3 linked regions of the Homo sapiens genome follow. The protein of the gene in region 1 interacts with the protein of each later gene in a pairwise test. Each region holds a gene or a part of one and is shown on either strand. Other genes may lie near its edges.

Region 1 (7,024 bases):
CAATGCTGATACCACAATAGTGTTTCTGATTTAATAAATCTGGGATTAGGTCCAGGGATCAGTAACTAGTATAAGCCCACCAGGTGATTCTAATGTATAGCTGATTAAGAATGACCGCTGTAATCTTTCAGTTTCCTCTTCTGCAAAATGAAGATAGTAATAACATTTGAGAACTAAATGATATAATAAATGAAAAATTTAAGTTGTGCCTGGAAAATGGCAAGAGCTCCACTGCTTTTAAATAGTATTATCCTACGGTGCTTGTGAAGATTTTTTAAAAGGATTTTATTTTCTCATATTCAGTTGACAGAATTGGAATTAAAATTACTGTAATTCTTAATCATAGATCACCAGACCATGCAGTTTAGTCAAGGCTGTGCTGTTTTTTCTCCCAGAAATCTGGAAAATACTATCAGTTCACTATTTTTATCAGTATACCATTCTGCAAAGATGAAATGTGATTGCAAAAGTGCTGCCAAAGTAATTGAATGAAGAAAATTACATATTTGAATCTTCTACTTCAAAAATGAAAAACTGAAGTTTCCCGTTGGCTTTTAAAATGTTATGTCTGTCTAACAGGAAAAGACAATCAGCATCAAGGTTCTTACAGTGAGGGGGCTCAGATGAATGGCATTCAGCCAGAAGAAATTGGTAGATTGCGAGAAGAGATAGAAGAATTAAAACGTAATCAGGAACTTTTACAAAGCCAGCTGACTGAAAAGGACTCTATGATTGAAAATATGGTAAAGTAAATGTTTAAGAAGTTAAAATAAGAGTTCAAGAGTGGTTCTCATTATCCTGCCTTTTTTTTTTTTCCTTGGATCTCTTAAGCCAGAATATCATATGTTAAGATTTTACAGGATGGGCCAGGCACAGTGGCTTACGCCTGTAATCCTAGCACTTTGGGAGGCTGAGGTGGGCGGATCACCTGAGGTCAGGAGTTCAAGACTAGCCTGGCCAATATGGCGAAACCCTGTCTCTACTAAAAATACAAAAATTAGCCGGGCATGGTGGCAGGCACCTGTAGTCCCAGCTACGCAGGAGGCTGAGGCAGGAGAATCTCTTAAACCCAGGAGGTAGAGGTTGCAGTGAGCCGAGATCACCCCACTTCACCTCATTGCCTGTGCGACAGAGGGAGACTTTCCATCTAAAAAAAAAAAAAAAAAGATTTTACAGGATGAGCTTTAGAGTCAAACTGTTTAAACTTCAATGCTTCCTGGCTCATTGAATTTAAGCAATTTAGTTAACCTCTTTAAACTTGTTTCCTGATCTATAAAATGGTAGTGGTAATGTCTAGTTCATTGTTGTGAGATTTAATTTACTCTTCTAATAGATGGAAATTATTTAATAAATGTTTGCTTTTATGCTCTTTCTCCATATGAACGCAGGTAAATGCTTAGATTTAATAAATTGCTCGGTAAAATAAAAATTTTATTTTTTTTTCTTTAGAGACAGAGTCTCGCTCTGTTAGCCCAGTCTGGAGCGCAGTGGCACAATCTCGGCTCACTGCAACCTCCACCTCCCAGGTTCTAGCAGTTCTCCTGCCTCAGCCTCCCGAGTAGCTGGGATTATAGGTGCACGCTGCCACGTCCGGCTAATTTTTTGTATTTTAGTAGAGATAGGGTTTCACCGTGTTGCCCAAGCTGATCTTGCATTCCTGAGCTCAAGCAATCCACTGGCCTTGGCCTCCCAAGGATTACAGGCATGAGCCACCGCACCCAGCCTACAAATGGATTTTTAGCCATGAAAAAGTTGTAGACAATATGTGCTGTGTTGGAATTTTATCTTGGGCATAAAAATTAAAAGGTTGGTGTGAATTTTTTGGTAAGCACATATGATATAGTTTATATGTGTACAGTTCTGTTTTTTTTTCTCATCTCTTTAGACTGAATATATTTTATAGTTTATTTTTGTGCTATTTGCAGAAATCTTCCCAAACATCTGGCACAAATGAACAGTCTTCAGCAATAGTTTCAGCTAGAGATTCTGAACAAGTTGCAGAATTAAAACAGGTAATTTTCCACTTTGATCCAATTCTACTTTGTCATGTTTTAATTATAATAGAATAACAGCCCTATAGTTTCACAAATCTAGAACTATATTAGCAGATGTAAGTAAAATTTAAGTTAAGACAGCCATTTGAAAATCCAGAAGCTGTTTCTATTTATATGGTAATAGTACTTTGCTTTTTATTGTGTTTTTATTTTTCAGAGGTATTCCTTTTAAAAAATCTCAGCATCTCACCCATGTTATTTATAGATTATCAGTGAACTAACAAGGAAAAATTTAAATTTATAACTTGCAAATATGAAAATGTAAAATCTTATGCCTAATTTTAATATACTATGATAATTGCTTGACTAAATGTATGGGGTTTTTAAACTGTTTTGTCTAGAAAATATAGAATTTTAGAATTGGAAAAGAGAAGAAAGGTAAACTTACCTATATCTCAATTAAATGACTCCAGCTAAAAAGCAAAATAAACTTTTTCTGTGGTAATTTATAACATCTAGAAAAGCAAGTTAAACTTTTTTCTACTTGCTTATAGTATTTATAAATTCCTGTTAAACTAGATCATACAGATTTACCTTTATCCAATGAAAAAATTTAAATGTATTGTTCAAGAAAAGAATCAAAAGAGAGAAATGAACTCTGTATACTTACAATTAAATAATGTAGCAATTGGAAGAAAACTCTAGAGTATATTATCCCTAAACAGGTTCTGGGGTTGTTTTTCTTTCCTCCTCTCTTTTCTTCTCTCTCTTTTCTTCTTTCCCTCCTTTCTTTCTTATTATAAAAGAAATGCATACTTTTTTTTTTTTAATCCAAGCAATACTAAAAAATGACCATCCTCACTAACCTAGGACTAACTGTCTTCCTTCTCTCTCCACTAAGCAACTGGCCCTAGTCCACTGACATGGCTGCTTTGAAAGAGAAATGACTGAACATAGAGAAATTTTGTCTTATTTTGATAATGTCCATGTACCTCAGAGTAGATTCTAAATATCTGACCTCTTTTTAAAAAAAGAATCACTTATCATTTGAGGATTTTCAGGTCTCCAATATTTGTTCACAATGTTTTATTTGTGTGGGAAGATTAATATGCTCTTTTGGTTTTATTAAGTGTACCTATACTAGAACTGTATTAAAATTAAAGGGAATTAAGTTACTAATATATAGCCTTAGTTTGTAAATTCTAAGTAAAAATAAGCCATTTAATTATCTTTCCCAGTGAAACTTTAATTAGATATTTTTATAAAAAGAGAATTGCCTTTTAGTTTTTTTACTTTCTCCAGTTTATTTACTTTTATAAACTTTAGATTGTTAAAATATATGTATTTTTTAAGTGACAGTTTTGTTTTTTATAATATATAGTAAAGTACTATATATAGAAAACTGTAACTCATTTTAATAACTAAACAAAATAAATTAGAAAAGCCACAAATGTACATGATAGAAATTTTAAAGAGAACCAAAAGAAAAGAGCCTTTTACTTGCCATTGTCCCACCACTTACTCAGTGTCTCCAGACATTACCAAATGTCCTCGGGGATGGGGGGATATGGGGAGAAATCACTCCTGCTGAGAGCCATTGTTATAATTGCCTTTCTTTTCCTGTACTTTTTTTGGGGGAGGAGAAGGTGAGAAGTTTGGAAATTCAACATTAATAAAAACTTTCAATTAATACCCTGGTTTTCATTATAGTACTACTGCTTTCATCTGTGTTTGGTGGTCCCTAGTCTAAAGATGTCCTGTTTTGCCCAGCCACATAATAAACCTCAAGTCTTCATCCAGGAAAGGAGGAACGGTTGCCTGATGCCTAAGATTGAGACAGGGATCTGATGATCTATTTCTTAAATAGTCTTTTAACCAGGCCTGCAGTTTTTAACCTCATTTTTATCTGTACTTCCAGTGGTATCTAATGATACCAGTTCCTAACCTTTCTGGTAGTTAATGCATTCATTGTAAGTCAGGTACTATCTTAACTTTCTCAGTGGTCATCCTAGCTTTCAGCTTTCTCAGGTGTGCTGATTTAGTTATCACTGTTACTTGCTTTCTCAAAATTCCCCAATTATATTGCTCTCTTCTCTTACTGTTCTTGTTTTTGTAGGTTTCTTCCTCTCTCCCTCCCATCCTTCCTTTCTTTCTTCCTTCTCCCCTCCCTTCCTGTCTTTTATGATTTTTTTTTTTTGCATGGGATTTCAGGAGGGAGCAGAGGTAAATGAATGTGTTGAATTTTCCATCTTGAACCCAAAATTCAAGAATAGTTCTTTAGAGTTAGATTTTAAAAGTAGGAGGTTGTAAATCATTTTTTTAAATGTCTCCCTGTAAATATTTCCTTGATGAATTTAATACCATTTAATGTTATGACTCAACTATTTTTGTCTCTTAGGAACTGGCAACTTTAAAGTCTCAGTTAAACTCACAATCTGTGGAGATCACCAAACTACAGACAGAAAAGCAGGAACTGTTACAGAAAACAGAAGCGTTTGTAAGTATTTTCTCTTTTTTCTCTGGAAGGTAATAAAGACAAGGTTGATGTATTATTTCTTAGCCACAATTAAAAAGAAACAAATTCATCAGATAGCACCTTCTCTTTAGATTACTTACTAGCCGGTATTCTAGTAACATAGGCTTCATGTTCATGGTGACAGTCGTTTTATAGTCAGTCTCACCAGATTAGTTTATTCAGTTACTTAATAGTTTATTTTGCTGGTATTACATTCTATTTCTGTCCCTTCAGTCCAAGCTGGCAGTTTTTCTGCTGTCATAAAATATTCAGAAACCGTTGTTGTTTTCTCCAGAACATTCCTTCTCATACTTTTGCAATATAGGTAGACTGAGAATTTTCCAAATCTTCTAATTCTGATTCTTTTTTGCTTAGCAATTTCTTCTTCAATTTATCTCTCTTCTCTCACATTTAACTTTAAGCAACAAGGAGAAACCAGGCTGCACTCCAACACTTTGCTTAGAAACCTCAGTAAAATATCCAAATTCATTATTTACAAGTTCTGCTGTCCACAAAACACTGCAACACTATTTGGCCAAGTTATTTGCCACTTTATAACAAGGATTGCCTTTCCTCCGATTCCCAGTAACATGTTCCTAGTTTTCATCTGAGACCTCACCAAAAGCACCTTTAACATTCATATTTCTGCCAGCATTCTTCTTCTCACTATGACCATGAAGCTTCTTTCCAACTCCGCTCTTTTCTTTCTGAGCTCTCACCAGAATCACTTAATGTCCATATCTCTAGCAACAGTCTCATCAAGGTAATGCAGGCTTTGTCTACCATGCACCTCTCTTACAGCCTCTACTCATTACACAGTTCCAAAGCTACTTCCACATTTTTAGATATTTGTTGTGTCACTACCCGACTTCCTAGTATTTTAGAAAAAAGACAAGGAAAGACTGAAAAACTGTTATTCAGGAGTGTCTCCTCTAGCACTTGAGAAAAGATTTGCATTTCACTAATAATGATATTTGGCTCAATTTATCTACCTATCTAGGGTGGTAGTATGGACTTATAGGAAATTTATGAAGGAAAGGCTTTGAAAAATATTCTGTGTTTATTAAATGCTGGGTTACAGTTACATTAGAGCTGCCTTGCTGATTACTTTTCTGGGCTTACCTACCTTGAGGCACCTTAGCCCAGCCTTCCTCGTACTCTTATGAGATTTGATGCTCTTCCATGTGGGAACAGCTCATCTGACAGTGGAGAGCACTTTGTTGCACATAAATACATAAGGAATTATATTTTCTGTTAGTGAAAGTAAAATATCAAAATGGCAAAAAAATTAAATAACCCTTTGGGAGTTCATATTGATTGTAATGTTTAAGAGACATCTTTTTTTCCAATTTCTAATTTCAGGCAAAATCAGTTGAGGTACAAGGAGAGACCGAGACTATAATAGCCACCAAAACTACTGATGTAGAAGGAAGACTGTCAGCATTATTACAAGAGACCAAAGAGTTAAAGGTTTGTTTTTGGTGCAACTTTTATTTACTGCATATGATATGAAATGAACTCTAGGAAATTTTATATATCTTTCAAATTCTTAGATTTATGAAGAAAGCTAATGATGTGTAATTTTATCTCACAACATTTTCACTCCTATATTGATGATTTAAGATGGCACAAATGAAAATTTTTTTTGTTTTGGGTTTTTTTGTTTTGTTTTGTTTTTTTGAGATGGAGTTTCGCTCTGTCACCAGACTGGAGTACAGTGGCGCGATCTCGGCTCACCACAACCTCTGCCTCCCAGGTTCAAGCAATTCTCCCGCCTCAACCTACTGAGTAGCTGGGACTACAGGCGTGCACCACCACACCCAGCTAATTTTTGTATTTTTAGTACAGACAGGGTTTCACCACGTTGGCCAGGATGGTCTCCATCTCTTGACCTCGTGATCCACCTGCCTTGGCCTCCCAAAGTGCTGGAATGCTGGAATTACAGGTGTGAGCTGCCGCACCCAGCCACAAATGAAGCTTTTAAAATACTATTTCAAATAATGATAATATGTAAGATAAGCATACATATGCATGTACTATAAAAGTAAAATTTATTGAAAATATTTTTGTTTTCTTTCTTTCTTTTTCTTTTTTTTTTTGAGAGAGAGTCTCAATTTTGTGTTCCAGGCTGGATGGAGTGCAGTGGCATGATCTCAGCTCACTGCAGCCTCCACCTCCCAGATTCAAGCGATTCTCCTGCCTCAGCCTCCTGAGTAGCTGGGATTTCAGGCACCTGCCAACATGCTCAGCTAATTTTTGTACTTTTAGTAGAGACGAGGATTCGCCATGTTGGCCAGGCTGGTCTCAAACTCCTGACCTCAGGTGATCTGCCCGCATTGGCCCCCCCCAAAGTGCTGGGATTACAGGCGTGAGCCACCACACCCGGCCTGTGTTTTCTTTTTAAGATCAACATCTAATCACAATAACAAAACAAGGAGTACAAATTTAGCTAATACACAAGCCACATGTAGGCTTTCCATAAGCCGTGGAACATAGGCACATTAAATCCTGTCAG
Region 2 (6,835 bases), on another chromosome or scaffold:
TGTGAAACGAGAGGGCACTACTTACCACTCAGATTGTGGTTCCGTGAGGATCCAGTGCAGAGTATGCGAAGAGTATAGGGTGTGTCCCTCACCCAGAAGCACCCTCAATTCTGATTTTCATCTCTCCTCCTGACTCCAAGGCTGCTGAGCAACAGCCACAGTCCTGCAAAGTGTTCCCACTTCTGTCATCACAGCTGGTCCCTATAACAACTAAGAGAGGGACCGTCTTACAGATGACAAAACCAAGCACATCCAGGGTGGTCTAGGCAAGAAGGGCCATGGGCCGGGCGCGGTGGCTCACGCCTATAATCCCAGCACTTGGGGTGGCTGAGGCGGGCAGATTACCTGAGGTTGAGAGTTCGAGACTAGCCTGACCAACACGGAGAAACCCCGTCTCTACTAAAAATACAAAATTAGCTGGGTGGTGCATGCCTGTAATCCTGTAATCCTGTAATGCCTGTAAATTAGGTGGGTGGTGGTGCATGCCTGTAATCCCAGCTACTCGGGAGGCTGAGGCAGAAGAATCGCTTGAAACCAGGAGGTAGAGGTTGTGGTGAGCTGATGTCGCACCATTGCCCTCCAGCCTGGGCAACAAGAGCGAAACTCCGTCTCAAAAAAAAAAAAAAAAAAAAAAAGGGCCTGCAGTGATGGTGTCTCTGATGGTGGTGGTGCATTGCACTGATGGTGTCTGAGTCTCCAAGGACTGAAGCCTAGGGCAGGCCACAGTATGGGTGGTCACCCTCAGACTTCTGTGACATGGCCTTGCTAAGCAGAAGAGGCTCGGCCACACACTGGCTAAGGAGGGAGAGATATATCCAGTCCCCTCCTCTGTCTCCCTAAGGAACTGGCAATAAGTGGAAGGTCACATCGCTCAGCCAGTTGTCTGGGTCAACAGGGAAGCCAGTAGTGGGAAAAGGAAGAGAAACACAGTGGGGCTGTGATGACTGATGGAGGTCACTGGGTGTCCATGCCGCCTCTGGAGTTCCAGCATAACCTCACCATCTGCATGCTACACTTCACAGTTCCCTCCTTCCTCCATCCAGGAACCTCACTTGATCCCCTCACCAGCCCTGCGAAGCCCAGGGCTTGTGTGATAGGTGTCGATATGCCCATTTTACATAGGGGAACACTGAGGCTCAGAGAGGGTAGTCACCTGGCCAGGGATGCACAGCCAGGACATAGTGGCAGGCTTGGGACTGCACCTAGGCTCTTGGGTTTGTCCTCTAATACGTCCTTCTGAAACTTGTCTGGCAGAGCATGGAATCTGATAGGCAGCTCCATGATGCTGTGTGATTGGCAGGTAGATCCTCGTGGGGTAGAAGCCATGTGTTCCCCCCACTTCCCCAGTCTTCTGAGGGGGTCTCTCCTGCTCCTTTAGGCAGGATGGGGCATTCTTGGCCCACTGCTGCCCCCTTGCGGTCTCATACCTTGTATCCCGATGGCTGCAAACGTTTCAACTGCAAGCTTAAAAATGTAGAGTCGGCTGAGTCCTCAAAGTGCCCGGGGAGAGCACAGAGGCGGTAGAGGGTTCAATGATTTGTTCAAGGTCCCAGCCGAGACACTGGGGAGCACCCTGCTTCACAGCTGAGACTCAAGGACTGGGGGGCCTCAGGCCTCCTGCCAAGAAAGGCAGTACAGCCTCAAAGTACCCCTTTCTGGAAGAGAGAGAAGTACATTTACTGAGTCCTGCTGTGTCCCATGACAGCTAAACTAACCACAAGGATGACGATCCCTTTTTATAGATGAATGTGAAGGGGACTTACCAGGTCTCTTTCCTCCTGGTCCCTAGGAGACCACTAGGAATACATGGGATGCTTCTGGTTAGCACAATGATTGCAGGACACCTGGGCATTCAGGGGACAGGGCCAGGGATAGCAAACACCTAAAATGCATAGGACAGTCCTACCCAGTGACAAATCATCTCAACAAGAATCCCGGTGCCAACCCTGTTGAGAAACACCATGCCCTGGGTTCAAATCCTGACTCAGCCACTTCCATCCCCTACCCTCTTGGACTCCAACATTGCCTAGAGGGCCAGGCATGAAATAAAGGACAGATGAGTGCCTGGCACAGGGCCAGAGACAAGGAGTGGGCTTTTCTGAGCAGGAAGAAGGTGAGGCCTCCTGGTGTTCTGTGCCATGCTATAAGATACTCCTGGCCCAGGAAATGGCTCAACCTGGTCTGACCTCCAACTATATCACCTCTTGACCCAGGAGCAGGTGAGATGTTAGCCGGGCCCAGCTACAGCCTTCTCACCCTCTGCCTTAAAGCAGGAAAAGCCCCTGAGCCAACCTGATTCCTCTGAGCTGCACGGGGCCACAGCTGTGGCTGGAGTTTGGGCTGCAAGACAGGGCTGAAAGGCGGGGCCCAAATAGGACTCACACACACACAAATACACACACACACACACGGTCTGTGAGGTCTTGATCCTCAGAAACGAAGTACAGGCTGGGTATGGTGGCGTGCACCTGTAGTAGCAGGTACTTGAGAGGCTGAGATGGGAGGATCACATGATCCCAGGGAGGTAGAGACTGCAATGCTGCACTCCAGCCTGAACAACAGAATAAGACCCTTTCTTTAAAAAAAAAAAAAAATACAGGCCACAAGCAGTTAACCTCGCAGTTAATTTGGGAAGAATTTTTTCCAAAAATCATGTAAAATATTCAATTCAGCTTTACAGTTAAAAATAAGAAATTCCATTCTTTTAGGGAAGATGAAAAAGTCCTGTTGCATGGATGGTGGTGATGGCTGCACGACGATGTGAATGTACTTTTGCCACTGAATTGTATCCTTAAAAATGGTTAAAATGGTAAAATTTTGTTATGTATATTTTACACAATAAAGAAAAAAGAAACTCCAAATGTTCTTTAATAAATGCCTTAAGCGGCCGGGTGCGGTGGCTCACCCGGCCTGTAATCCCAGCACTCTGGGAGGCCGAGGCAGGCAGATCATCTGAGGTCAAGAGTTCAATAAATGCCTTATGCATCTTACAACTGTATTGGGAAGAGAAGAAGAAATCAGCAATGAGGGAGTGAAGCAGAGGCCTGGGAATCATGATGTGGACAGAAAGAAGGGACAATCAGGAGCCTCCCCTGCACCTGCTGCAGTCCCAGGCCCGTGTTCCAGGGTTCTTCAAGGCAGAAAGCCCCAGTGCCTCACCCCAGGAGGGGGCTTTTCTCTCATATCCCAGCCCCTTGGGAGGCTTTTTCTTCTCACTCCCTGGGCTGGGAGTCAAGAAGACCTCAGTAGGAGTCCAGCCTCTGCAGCCTTGCTGCGTGTCTGACAACAAAACCCTTTCCCTTTCTGGGCTTCAGGGTCACCGACATGTACCACAAGGAGGATTCCCAACCTCTCTTCTTGCCCAAACGCTGCATGATTCTCTCAGCGACGATACAGCTCGTCCGGTTCACCCTGCCTAGATTCTAGCAGGAACTATGGTGCCCTGAAGGTCAAGCCCATGGTGATCTCCTTGGTCAGCCCCAGAAGGGACCCTGGGCTCTCCTTCTGCTCTTCCTGCTGCCCCTTCATGGGGCTGGGAAAACCTAGGACCTGCTTCTCCCACCCTGAGGCCCCTACTGTGTACCAGGCCCGGGTAAGGTACCAGTCACATACTCGCACTTAGGCCTCACAGTTCATCCCATTTTATGCACAAGGCGACTCAAAGACTGAGTCTGGCCCAGAGAAGGCCTGCAGGAGCTCCGAGCCCCGCCTGGGCGCCGGGAGCAGGGGCGGGGTCGTCCGGGACCCTTTCCCGGAAGGGAGGCCGCAGGGGCCTGCGGGGCGGGGCCTGCGGGGCGAGGCCCGGGGCGCGTCCCGGAACCAGAGACGGGGCAGCGCTCGAGTTCCTGCGCGGGACTGCCAAGGCACGACCACGGGCCGGAAGGCTGCCAGGCCCAGTGGGCAAGCGAAGAAATGAACCACCGCAACGCGGGCGCTTCGGGGCGGGGCCGAGTGCGAACCTGAGCCCCAAATCCCGACCCAGGCAGGGGCGGGGCCCGGAGCGGGGCCTTGGAGGCCCAGCCCGCGCGGCGACGTCTCCGCGTGGCGTCACGGCACCGACTGACGGCCACCCACCATGGCCGCAGACCAGCGCCCGAAGGCCGACACGCTGGCCCTGAGGCAACGGCTCATCAGGTACCCGGGCGGGGGGCGGGCGGCGGGGGGCGCGGGGCTGCGCGGAGAGGCACGCGCACGCACGACGCACGCACGCACGCACTACGCACGCGCCTCCGGCTAGGAAGCCGCTGCTACCCATCCCGTCCGGCCGCTGCCCCGGCCCCGCTGGAGCTTCTAGGGCCCGAGGCGGGCGGCGCCGTTGGGCAGTCCCGGCGGGTGGTCTCCGGGGCCGCCTCCCCGACAGCGCCGTCTCCAGGCCGCCCAGTTCAGGAGACGGCCCCGCCCTCACCGCTGTTCGGCTGTGTCAGCCTCGCTTGGCAGCCTTTACTCCGGAGAAGACCTTCACCCTGGCGCCTGAGAGGACCTCACCCAGGGTGGCCCGTCAGCAGCACCTGGGCCTGGCTCGAGAGTGACCTGGGAGGGGGCTGAAAGGGCAGACAAGGGAGAGTCGGGGGAGTCGGTTCACAGGCAGCACACTTGACCTGTGAGGGGGCCCTCGGTGGGACGGTGGGTGAGGTCGCCTCCCACTGGAGCTTAGGGCTGGCACCCAGCGAGGGGCAGCAGGGCCACGTGGCTGGCAAGGAGCTGTTTAGGGCTGAGAGCCAGGCACCTAATGTTGGTGCCCTGGCCCATCCCATCGAAGACACGCGGCCTTATGGAGTCCCCATGGGACGGGGCAGCCACCTTTTCTCAGGATCCGGGAGACTGACGCGGACACATGCAGAAATGAGCAAGGAGGCCACAGAGGCTGAAAATGCTTTCAGAAACAATCCGAAGTTTCAGCGACTTGTTACCCCATCTGCTTCCTGCTTTGCAACCACCTGTGGAGTGGAGAGACAAGGCAGGGAAGCAGCACCTTGCCCTTCCAGCTCTCATTTCCCCCCCGCCACCAGAAACTGGGAAGGGGTGGGCGGGGGTCTGCGATGAGTAGACTTCACCCTTTCGGTCTTCAGACATGGCTGTCCACTCCTTGCCTGTCCCCACAGCTCTTCCTGCAGACTCTTTTTTCCCGAGGATCCTGTTAAGATTGTCCGGGCCCAAGGGCAGTACATGTACGATGAACAGGGGGCAGAATACATCGATTGCATCAGCAATGTGGCGCACGGTCAGTATCACACCTCAGGCTGGCAGGGCAGGAGAGGAAGGCAGTGCTGTGAACCTGGTCCCAAGGTGACCTGAGATTGCCGAGAGGTGTGGAGAACCTGGGTGGAGTTGAGGCACTGTCAGTATGCAGAGGAGGCTCAGCCTTCGCAATATAGCTGTGGAATTCTGCAATCTGGAGCTGTGCTAAACCAGGCAGGGGTCAGCAATCTAGGTCTGTGAGTCTAGTTCCACTTGGGACTGATGATGAGCTCACAAAGTGGCAGATGGCCCAGCTGTGACCAGCAACGTAGCACAGTGCTGGCCAAGTGCTGGGGTCATGGCAGTGCTTCAGCCCCATTGGCCATCTCAGGTGCTAGGCAAGGGAGCTGAAGTAGGAATTCAGTCATCTTGATGAGGCTGCCAGAGCTGATGGAAAGAAAGGGAGTCTGAGACTCAGCAGGCACATGGAAGATGAATAAAGTTGAGGTTAAAAAAAAAAAAAAAGCAGAGACTCTAGTCTTAGACTGCTTGGGCTCAAATCCCTGTCCCCTACTTACTAACTTGTGATCTCGGGCAAGTTACTTAATTCTCAGTGCCTCAGTTTGCTTATCTGTGAAAGACATAATGATACTAGGTACCCACTTTAAGGTGTTTGGAGAATTAAGTGTGTTAATTTATGTAGCTTGCTCTGAATGTGCCTGGCACATGGTGAGCTCTCAGTACATATTCACTGTTATTATCCTTGGCCTTTGACAATCAAGATTACCACCAGCCCCCTTGGCTGGTGAAGTGAAACCAGTTGACAGTCACCCCCCACCCCACCTTTGTCATACAAGCCTCAAAAGGCCTTCCAGCCTGGGCAACATAATGAGACCTTGTCTCTACCAAAAAAAAACTTAAAAATTAGCCAGGCATGGTGACTGGTGTCTATAGCCCCACCTGCTCAGGAGGCTGAGGTGGGAGGACCACTTGAGCCCAGGAGTGTGAGGATGCAGTGAATGCCATGATCACACCATACACTCCAGCCTGGGTGACAGAGTAAGGCCCTGTTAAAAAAAAAAAAAAAAGTCCTCCTTAAAGACATGGGCTTTCTAGACAGGGTTCTTCTGCTGAAGCGGCTTTCCTTCTGCCAGAATCTCAGGAACTCCTGGATCTGCCTTTCCAGAACCAGCTTCTCTCTCCCTGCTCTGCCTTCAGACTGCCCTCTTTCTACCTCTCCCTCTAGAACTACATCTCTTCTGGCTGGGTTTATAGCTTGGGGCTGGGGGAGGCCCAGTGGGACTGGCTGAGTGGAGCCAGCCGTGTGACGGAGGCGGCCCTCTTCCAGTTGGGCACTGCCACCCTCTCGTGGTCCAAGCAGCACATGAGCAGAACCAGGTGCTCAACACCAACAGCCGGTACCTGCATGACAACATCGTGGACTATGCGCAGAGGCTGTCAGAGACCCTGCCGGAGCAGCTCTGTGTGTTCTATTTCCTGAATTCTGGGTAAGTGGACTGTGGCCAGCCCCCGGGAAGAGGGTGAGACGGTAACAAAGACAGTCACTCACATGGGCCCAGTGTAGTGTAGCTGACCGAGTGTGGACTCGGAGAGGCAGCCCCCACTGCACCAGGCTCCTGAGATTCCCGGCTGTAGG
Region 3 (7,419 bases), on another chromosome or scaffold:
CCATCTGCATCATCCTTCTTTCTCCCTTTTCCAACAACACATTTACACTTCGATGGGGCTTTCTGGCCTTTGTGCCTTTGAAGATGTTGGTCCTTCCGGTTAGAACTTCTTTCCTCATCTCCCTCCTTTTTCCCTGACAAATTCCCACTCATCCTTCAAGATGCAGATCAAGCATCACCTCCTCTGGGAGGCCATCCCTAATTACCCTCCTTCCATTAGGATTGGATGCCTCCATGTGCTCCCTTAGTACACGGCCCTTGCCTCTACTATAACACTAATTAGCTATTTACTTACTTTCACTCCAGCATTTCACCAAGTTCCTTGAGGGCAAAGACTGTCATACATCTTTATATCCTCAGCATCTACAGTCGTGCCTTATTTTACTTAGCATAATGTCCTCAAAGTTTTTATTGTTGTTGAGATGGAGTCTTGCTCTGTCACCCAGGCTGGAGTGCAGTGATGCGATCTCGGCACGCTGCAACCTCCACCTCCGGGGTTCAAGGGATTCTCCTACCTCAGCCTCCTGAGTAGCTGGATTACAGGCATGCACCACCATGCCCAGCTAAGGTTTTGTTTTCATTTTTGTTTTTTAGGATGGAGTCTCGCTCTGTTGCCCACGCTGGAGTGCAGTGGCATGAGTTCAAGGGGGTTCAAGTGATTCTCCCGCCTCACCCTCCCAAGTAGCTGGGATTACAGGCGCCTGCCACCATGCCTGGCTAATTTTTGTATTTTTAGTAGAGATGGGGTTTCACCATGTTGGCCAGGCTGGTCTTGAACTCCGGACCTCAGGTAATCTGCCTGCCTTGGCCTCCCAAAGTGCTGGGATTACAGGTGTGAGCCACTGGGCCCCGCCTTTTTTTTTTTTTTTTTTTGTATTTTTAGTAGAGACAGGTTTTCGCCATGTTGGCACGGCTGGTCTCAAACTCCTGACCTCAGGTCATCTGCCAGCCTCAGCCCCACAAAGTGCTGGGATTACAGGCATGAGCCACCGTGCCCGACCTCAAAGATAATCTATGTTGTAGCATGTGACAGAATTTCCCTCTTTTTATATGGCTGAATAATAGTTCATCATATGCATATACCATCTTTCTTTCTTTCTTTCTCTTTTTCTTTCTTTCTTTCTTTTCTTTTTCTCTTTCTTTCTCTCTCTCTTTCCTTCCTTCCTTCCTTCCGTCTTCCTTCCATCCTTCCTTCCTTCCTTCCTTCCTTCTCTCTCTCTCTCTCTTTCTTTCTTTCTTTCCTTTTTGGAGACAGAGTCTCGCTCCATCCCTTAGGCTGGAGTGCAGTGGCATGATCTTGGCTCACTGCAACCTCCGTCTCCTGGGTTCAAGCGAGTCTCCTGCCTCAGCCTCCCGAGTACCTAGGATTACAGGCACCCACCACCATGCCCAGCTGATTTTTGTATTTTTAGTAGAGATAGGGTTTTGCCATGTTGGCCAAGCTGGTCTTGAATTCCTGGCCTCAGGTGATCCACCTGCCTCGGCCTCCCAAAGTGCTAGGATTACAGACGTGAGCCACCGCGCCCGGCCCATACCACATTTTCTTTATCCATTAATCCATGATGGACATTTGGGTTACTTCTACCTTTTTGCTATTGTGAATAATGTTGCCATAAATATGGGTGTGCAAATATCTTTGAGATCCCACTTTCAATTCTTTTGGCTATATAACCTAGAAGTGAGATTGCTGGATCATGTGGTAATTCTATTTTTAATCGTTTGAGGAAACTCCGTACTGTTTTCCCTGGTGGGTGCACCATTTTACATTCCCTTCAGCAATGCATAAGCGTTCCAATTTTTCCACATCCTTGCTAACACTTATTTTCTGTGCTTGAAAAAAATACTAGCCATCCTAATGGGTGTAAGATGATATTATTATTGTAGTTTTGATTTGCATTTCTCTAATGATTAGCAATTTGAGCATCTTTTCCTATGCTTTTTGGCCTCTTGTATATCTTCTTTGGAGGAATGTCTATTCAGGTCGTTTGCCCAGTTTTTTGAAAATTGGGTTACTTGTTTTTCTGTTGTCGAGTTGTAGGAGTTTTTTATATGTTCTGCATATTAACGTATCAGATATATGCTTTGCAATTATTTTTTCCCATTCCATACAAATTCCTTTTCTCTCTATTGACTGTTTTGCTTGATATGCAGACACTTTAAAATTTGATATAGTCCCATTTGTCTATTTTCGCTTTTGTTGCCTGTGCTTTTGGTATTTTATCCAAAAAATTGAGGGAGAAGAAAAGGAAAAATCAGTTAGGTAGACAGCTAAGGCTAGCCCTTGGAGAAGCAGTCTGCCTGAAAAATCACAGCTACAAACAAAATAGAGCAGCTTAGGCAAAACTCAGGCTGCACCTGCACAGATAAGCAGGTAGGGTCCAGCACAGACGCTTTTCATTCTTCGTGTAATTGGCGAGCTCCCAGGAAAAACTTTCCTCCCCTTTTCAGGTATATACACAGTGGACTCCGTGGGAACTTGCACAGGAAGGAGGGGGGCTTACCTAAAACAAACCTACAGTGATACAAACAAGAGAACCCACGCTTTGTGCTTGCCTAGAGACATACCCACATCGGCAGAAGATAAGGGAAGTTGCACAGACAGATTTATTCATAAGAGAAGTTACTCAAACAACTATAGAGATGAGAGGAGTTTCTTATAATAGGTTTTGAATTCAGCTGTAAAAATGGCACCCCACTTGGGCTCCCCTCTCTGCTGTGGAGAGCTTTCTTCTTTTGCTTATTAAACTTTTGCTTCAACCTCACTCTTTGTGCCCATGCTCCTTAGTTTTCTCGGTCGTTAGACAAGTTCGGATAACACCTTAGACAATGAGACCATTAACCCTTACCTGTTTCAACATTTTTATCAAATCCAAGGCCATGAAGCTTTCCCCCTATGTTTTCTACTAAGAATGTTATATTTTTAGGTCTTTAATCTATTTGGAGTTATTTTTTGTGTATGGTCCAAGGTAAAGGTCCATCTTCATTCTTTTGCATGTGGATATCTAGTTTTTCCCAACACTGTTGAGGAGATTGTCCTTTTTCCATTGTGTGGTCTTGGCACTCTTTTTGAAGATTATTCTAACATATATGCAGTGTTGCAGGTGATTAGCAGCTTTCTGGGCTGGTGACATGGGTGGTAGGAAGAATTTACCAACACAGTTGTAGGTAAAGAAAGGCAGGTTTATTAGATAAAGTATGAAAATACATTGCAAGGGTGCAACAGGCAGGTCAGCAAGAGAGAAGCTGACTGCTAGGAAACAAAGGCTTGCTGGGGATTTTGTAGAATGGTGCTTATGTTGTGGGTGGAAGAGGGCTTTGTGCAGTACTAATAATGCCAGGGTTGCAGTGAACTAACTTCCATTTTTCTATCAGCTGAGGGTCTGGTGATGGCTGGGCACAGGCAGATTGTGAGTTATTTGCACAGCAGGGCTATGTGTCCTGGACCACGAAGAAAGGCAGACTTATGGCTTGTCTGCTTTCTCCTTTTGCTTCCCTTCGTCCAGCCAGCCTGACTCCTTTTCCCTAATTAGGACTCCACACGCAAGGGTTTGTTCTGTTCCAGAATAGAGACACGTCGATGTATCTATCTTTATACCAGTACTATAGCTGCTACTTCTTGACCAATTACAGCTTTAGTATCTCTCTCACCTGTCCTCCCTATACAAAAGATATATAAAATATACTCACTGTACTGAGTATCTTCCTGCAGCATTCAGTCTGGAGCAAAGCCTGCTTCCTTCAACCCTTTCCAAAATCCCCAAATAAAAGCCCAAAATCTGTAGAGGATCTTCCTAACATCCTCGTGCTGAGATGCCCTGAAATTCTCCATAACTCATGACTGAGTAATAAAACCAACTTGCTTAATTAAAGTTGGTTTCTTGTAGTCCTGGCCGGAGGACATTGACTTACAAAAATATAGGATTAGTATCTTCAAAATAAATAGACAGTAAACATCAACAAGGATTCACACCCCAATAATGAAATTGGGCAGAAAAAGGAAAAATAATCATGAAATGCACAGTAAAGATGGCTCCATAATATTGAAAAAAATTTTACTTCAAATGCATAAAATGATGCTTCTGATTCAGCTGGTGCGACATTTATTTCACATTTGAGTTCAGCTGCTCCTGATGTCTCTTTCCTGAAAATTTCAATACTAAGAGCTCGAGAAACCCTGTATTTGGGGAAGCTTATCCTTCACCATCAACTTTGGGGGTAGGGGTCAGAGGGAACAAGGGTGGAAAGGCCGCGCTGAATGGGGCCGAAGCTCCGCCCCTCAGCGATAAGTCCAGATTCCTGCGGCCGACGTGGTCCTCCGAGGGAGCAGCAGAGCCGCCGAGGCTGGCGAGTCCCAGGGGAAGGATGTTCTAGCCGGAGTCTACTCGATGGTAGGGCAGGAAGCCGCCTTGTCTCTGGGCGCGGCCATGTTGGAGGCTCCGGGCCCGAGTGATGGCTGCGAGCTCAGCAACCCCAGCGCCAGCAGAGTCAGCTGTGCCGGGCAGATGCTGGAAGTGCAGCCAGGATTGTATTTCGGTGGGGCCGCGGCCGTCGCGGAGCCAGATCACCTGAGGGAAGCGGGCATCACGGCCGTGCTAACAGTGGACTCGGAGGAGCCCAGCTTCAAGGCGGGGCCTGGGGTCGAGGATCTATGGCGCCTCTTCGTGCCAGCGCTGGACAAACCCGAGACGGACCTACTCAGCCATCTGGACCGGTGCGTGGCCTTCATCGGTCAGGCCCGCGCTGAGGGCCGTGCGGTGTTGGTGCACTGGTGAGTGGCCGGGTCAGTGGGTGACGTGCCCCGCCAAGCTTCCAGCCGGCCCCCGTCGCCCCTTACCTTCCGAGGCCGTCGGGAGGACAAGAGCGCGGTCATGCCGCGTGAACCTCCTCCCGCTGCCTCCCGCAGGAGGCGTGTTTCCAAGAGAGGAGGAGGGTTGAGGCGGGCCCCTGGTGTGTGCAGGCTTTCATTCATTCATGCTTTAGTTGGTTCTTCCTGCAGCAGCAGAGGGCGGGGGAGGTGTCATCTGATAAATGACAAATTACCTACACCCTAAGGAGTTTACAGCTCTGTTGGAGAAGCTAGACACCCACCCCGATTATTGTAATGCAGATTAGGTTGCTTGGTGTCTTGTAAACGGGATTTACAAAGATTTAGGGTTAAATGTTTTTGTTTGGGATGGGTGGCGGGTGGTTGATGAAGAGATGAATTGGTTTGGATCTAAAGGATCCCTGGGCTTTGCCTAGGGAGGAGATGGTTGCAGCAAAGACAAAAAGAAAATGGGAATCCCGCAGGGCGCGGTGGCTCACGCCTGTAATCCCAGCACTTTGGGAGGCAGGAGGATCACAAGGTGAGGAGTTCGAGATCAGGCTGGCTAATATGGTGAAACCAAAAATACAAAAATTAGCCGGGCGTGGTGGCTCTCGCCTGTAGTCCCAGCTACTCGGGAGGCTGAGGCAGGAGAATCACTTGAACCTGGGAGGCGGAGGTTGCAGTGAGCCGAGGTCATGCCACAGCACTCCAGCCTGGGCAACAGAGCGAGACTCCATCCCTCCCCCCAAAAAAAGAAAATGGGAATCCCTAAGCAGTTCTTGGTTGGATTGGAGTATAATAATCGTTTAAATTTATTGAGCACATAAAAGAAGATAGTGATGAAATCAAAAGAAGTCTGGGACCAGATTTTGAGGTCCCTGAATGCTAAGATGAAAGGAGATTGGATTTGTTTTTGTTTTGTTTTATTTATTTTTATTTTGATATAGGGTCTTGCTCTGTCACCCAGGCTACAGTGTAGTAGCGTAATTACGGCTCACTGCAGTCTCAACCTCCCAGGCTCAAGTGAACCTCCTGCCTCGGCCTCCAGAGTAGCTGGGACTACAGACCCCACCACATCCGGCTAATTTTTTGTAGAGGTGGGGTCTCACTTTGTTGCCCAGGCTGGTCTCCAACTCTTGGACTCAACCAATCCTCTCACCTCGCCTCCCAAAGTGCTGGGATTTCAGGCGTAGGTAAGCCACTGTGTCTAGCCAGGAGTTTGGATTTGTTCTGAGCCATTATAAAAATTTTAAAAATTACTGTTATTATTTTTGAATAGGTAATAGATTCACGTGGTTCAGAATTCAAAAGGAAAAAGGAATAATTATTTTGTACCTTGATAATATTTCAGAGGCAATGGGCTTATTTGAGAAGCAAAAATGAAGTGGGCCTAAACTTTACTATTAATAGGGGGCTGGGCTTTGTGTGTTTTTTTTTTTAATTGTTGCTATTTGCTGTTTTATTTTAAAGGTCTCTTTTTCAGTCATGCAGGAGTCAGTCGAAGTGTGGCCATAATAACTGCTTTTCTCATGAAGACTGACCAACTTCCCTTTGAAAAAGCCTATGAAAAGCTCCAGATTCTCAAACCAGAGGCTAAGTGGGTTCTTTTTTTATAGTAATAATTATGCTTTTGTGATATAATTTTAAGAAAATGAAACTTTATATTTCTTTATCATTACAGGATGAATGAGGGGTTTGAGTGGCAACTGAAATTATACCAGGCAATGGGATACGAAGTGGATACCTCTAGTGCAATTTATAAGCAATATCGTTTACAAAAGGTTACAGAGAAGTATCCAGGTAAGTAATAATTGCTAGTGTGTAATGGGCTTTCTAGATGACATTTACTTTAGCATTGTATGCTTTACCTTACTTCCAGCAATCCCTGAGAAACTATTGTTTCTTTTTGAAACTGATTTAGCCAGAAATAACCTATTCAAAATCACATGGTTTATAAATGGCAGGGTCAGGATTTGAATTCAGGCAGCCCGTGCCCAGAACCTAAGCACTTAAATCACTGTCCTCTCCTACCTTAGCCTGATTTCTCAACACTGGAATTTGATTTTTTTTTTTTTTTAATTTTTGAGGTTAGCACTTGTTGCCTCAATTTGACATTAACTGAATTTATCTGAAAATGCAGAGTTGATTTTGACAAATAAATACATTTTAATTATGTCATATAGAATTGCAGAATTTACCTCAAGAACTCTTTGCTGTTGACCCAACTACCGTTTCACAAGGATTGAAAGATGAGGTTCTCTACAAGTGTAGAAAGTGCAGGTAAACTATTTTATATCCTTTGGATATTTTATCTTGTCTCAGTAGCTGAAAAGTACTTAATGTTTTATTTTCTTAAATTTCTGTAGGAAGATTTTGTTTAATTGAAATTTTTAGTTCAGATCTGTTTTCAGAAAGAATATAAATTCTTAAAAAGAGAAATAATCAGATTGTAAGGGTTATTGAAAATTTAAGTAGTGTAATCAATGTTACATTATTTTGTTCTCTAAGCAATATTGCACATTTTGCTGGGCGCAGTGGCTCACGCCTGTAACCCCAGCACTTTGGGAGGCCGAGGCAGGCAGATCACCTGAGATTGGGAATTTGAGACCAGCC

What was found. The genes of interacting proteins can lie anywhere in the genome.
Region 2: the proteins of USO1 (region 1) and PHYKPL interact in binary tests that used the Homo sapiens proteins (3 or more experiments, as listed by UniProt).
Region 3: the proteins of USO1 (region 1) and DUSP12 interact in binary tests that used the Homo sapiens proteins (3 or more experiments, as listed by UniProt).

Annotation. Positions count from the first base shown.
Region 1 is NC_000004.12:75,804,561-75,811,584, forward strand, and holds part of USO1 (general vesicular transport factor p115), read left to right. Parts: intron 1-579; coding exon 580-743; intron 744-1,925; coding exon 1,926-2,012; intron 2,013-4,392; coding exon 4,393-4,491; intron 4,492-5,871; coding exon 5,872-5,979; intron 5,980-7,024. UniProt on the Homo sapiens protein: General vesicular transport factor required for intercisternal transport in the Golgi stack; it is required for transcytotic fusion and/or subsequent binding of the vesicles to the target membrane.
Region 2 is NC_000005.10:178,229,791-178,236,625, reverse strand, and holds the start of PHYKPL (5-phosphohydroxy-L-lysine phospho-lyase), read left to right. Parts: upstream 1-3,823; 5' UTR 3,824-4,075; coding exon 4,076-4,134; exon of another isoform or gene 4,135-4,782; coding exon of another isoform or gene 4,783-4,957; intron 4,958-5,102; coding exon 5,103-5,221; intron 5,222-6,526; coding exon 6,527-6,686; intron 6,687-6,835.
Region 3 is NC_000001.11:161,745,379-161,752,797, forward strand, and holds the start of DUSP12 (dual specificity protein phosphatase 12), read left to right. Parts: upstream 1-4,407; 5' UTR 4,408-4,423; coding exon 4,424-4,767; intron 4,768-6,276; exon of another isoform or gene 6,277-6,289; coding exon 6,290-6,403; intron 6,404-6,487; coding exon 6,488-6,606; intron 6,607-6,989; coding exon 6,990-7,086; intron 7,087-7,419. UniProt on the Homo sapiens protein: Dual specificity phosphatase; can dephosphorylate both phosphotyrosine and phosphoserine or phosphothreonine residues. Can dephosphorylate glucokinase (in vitro).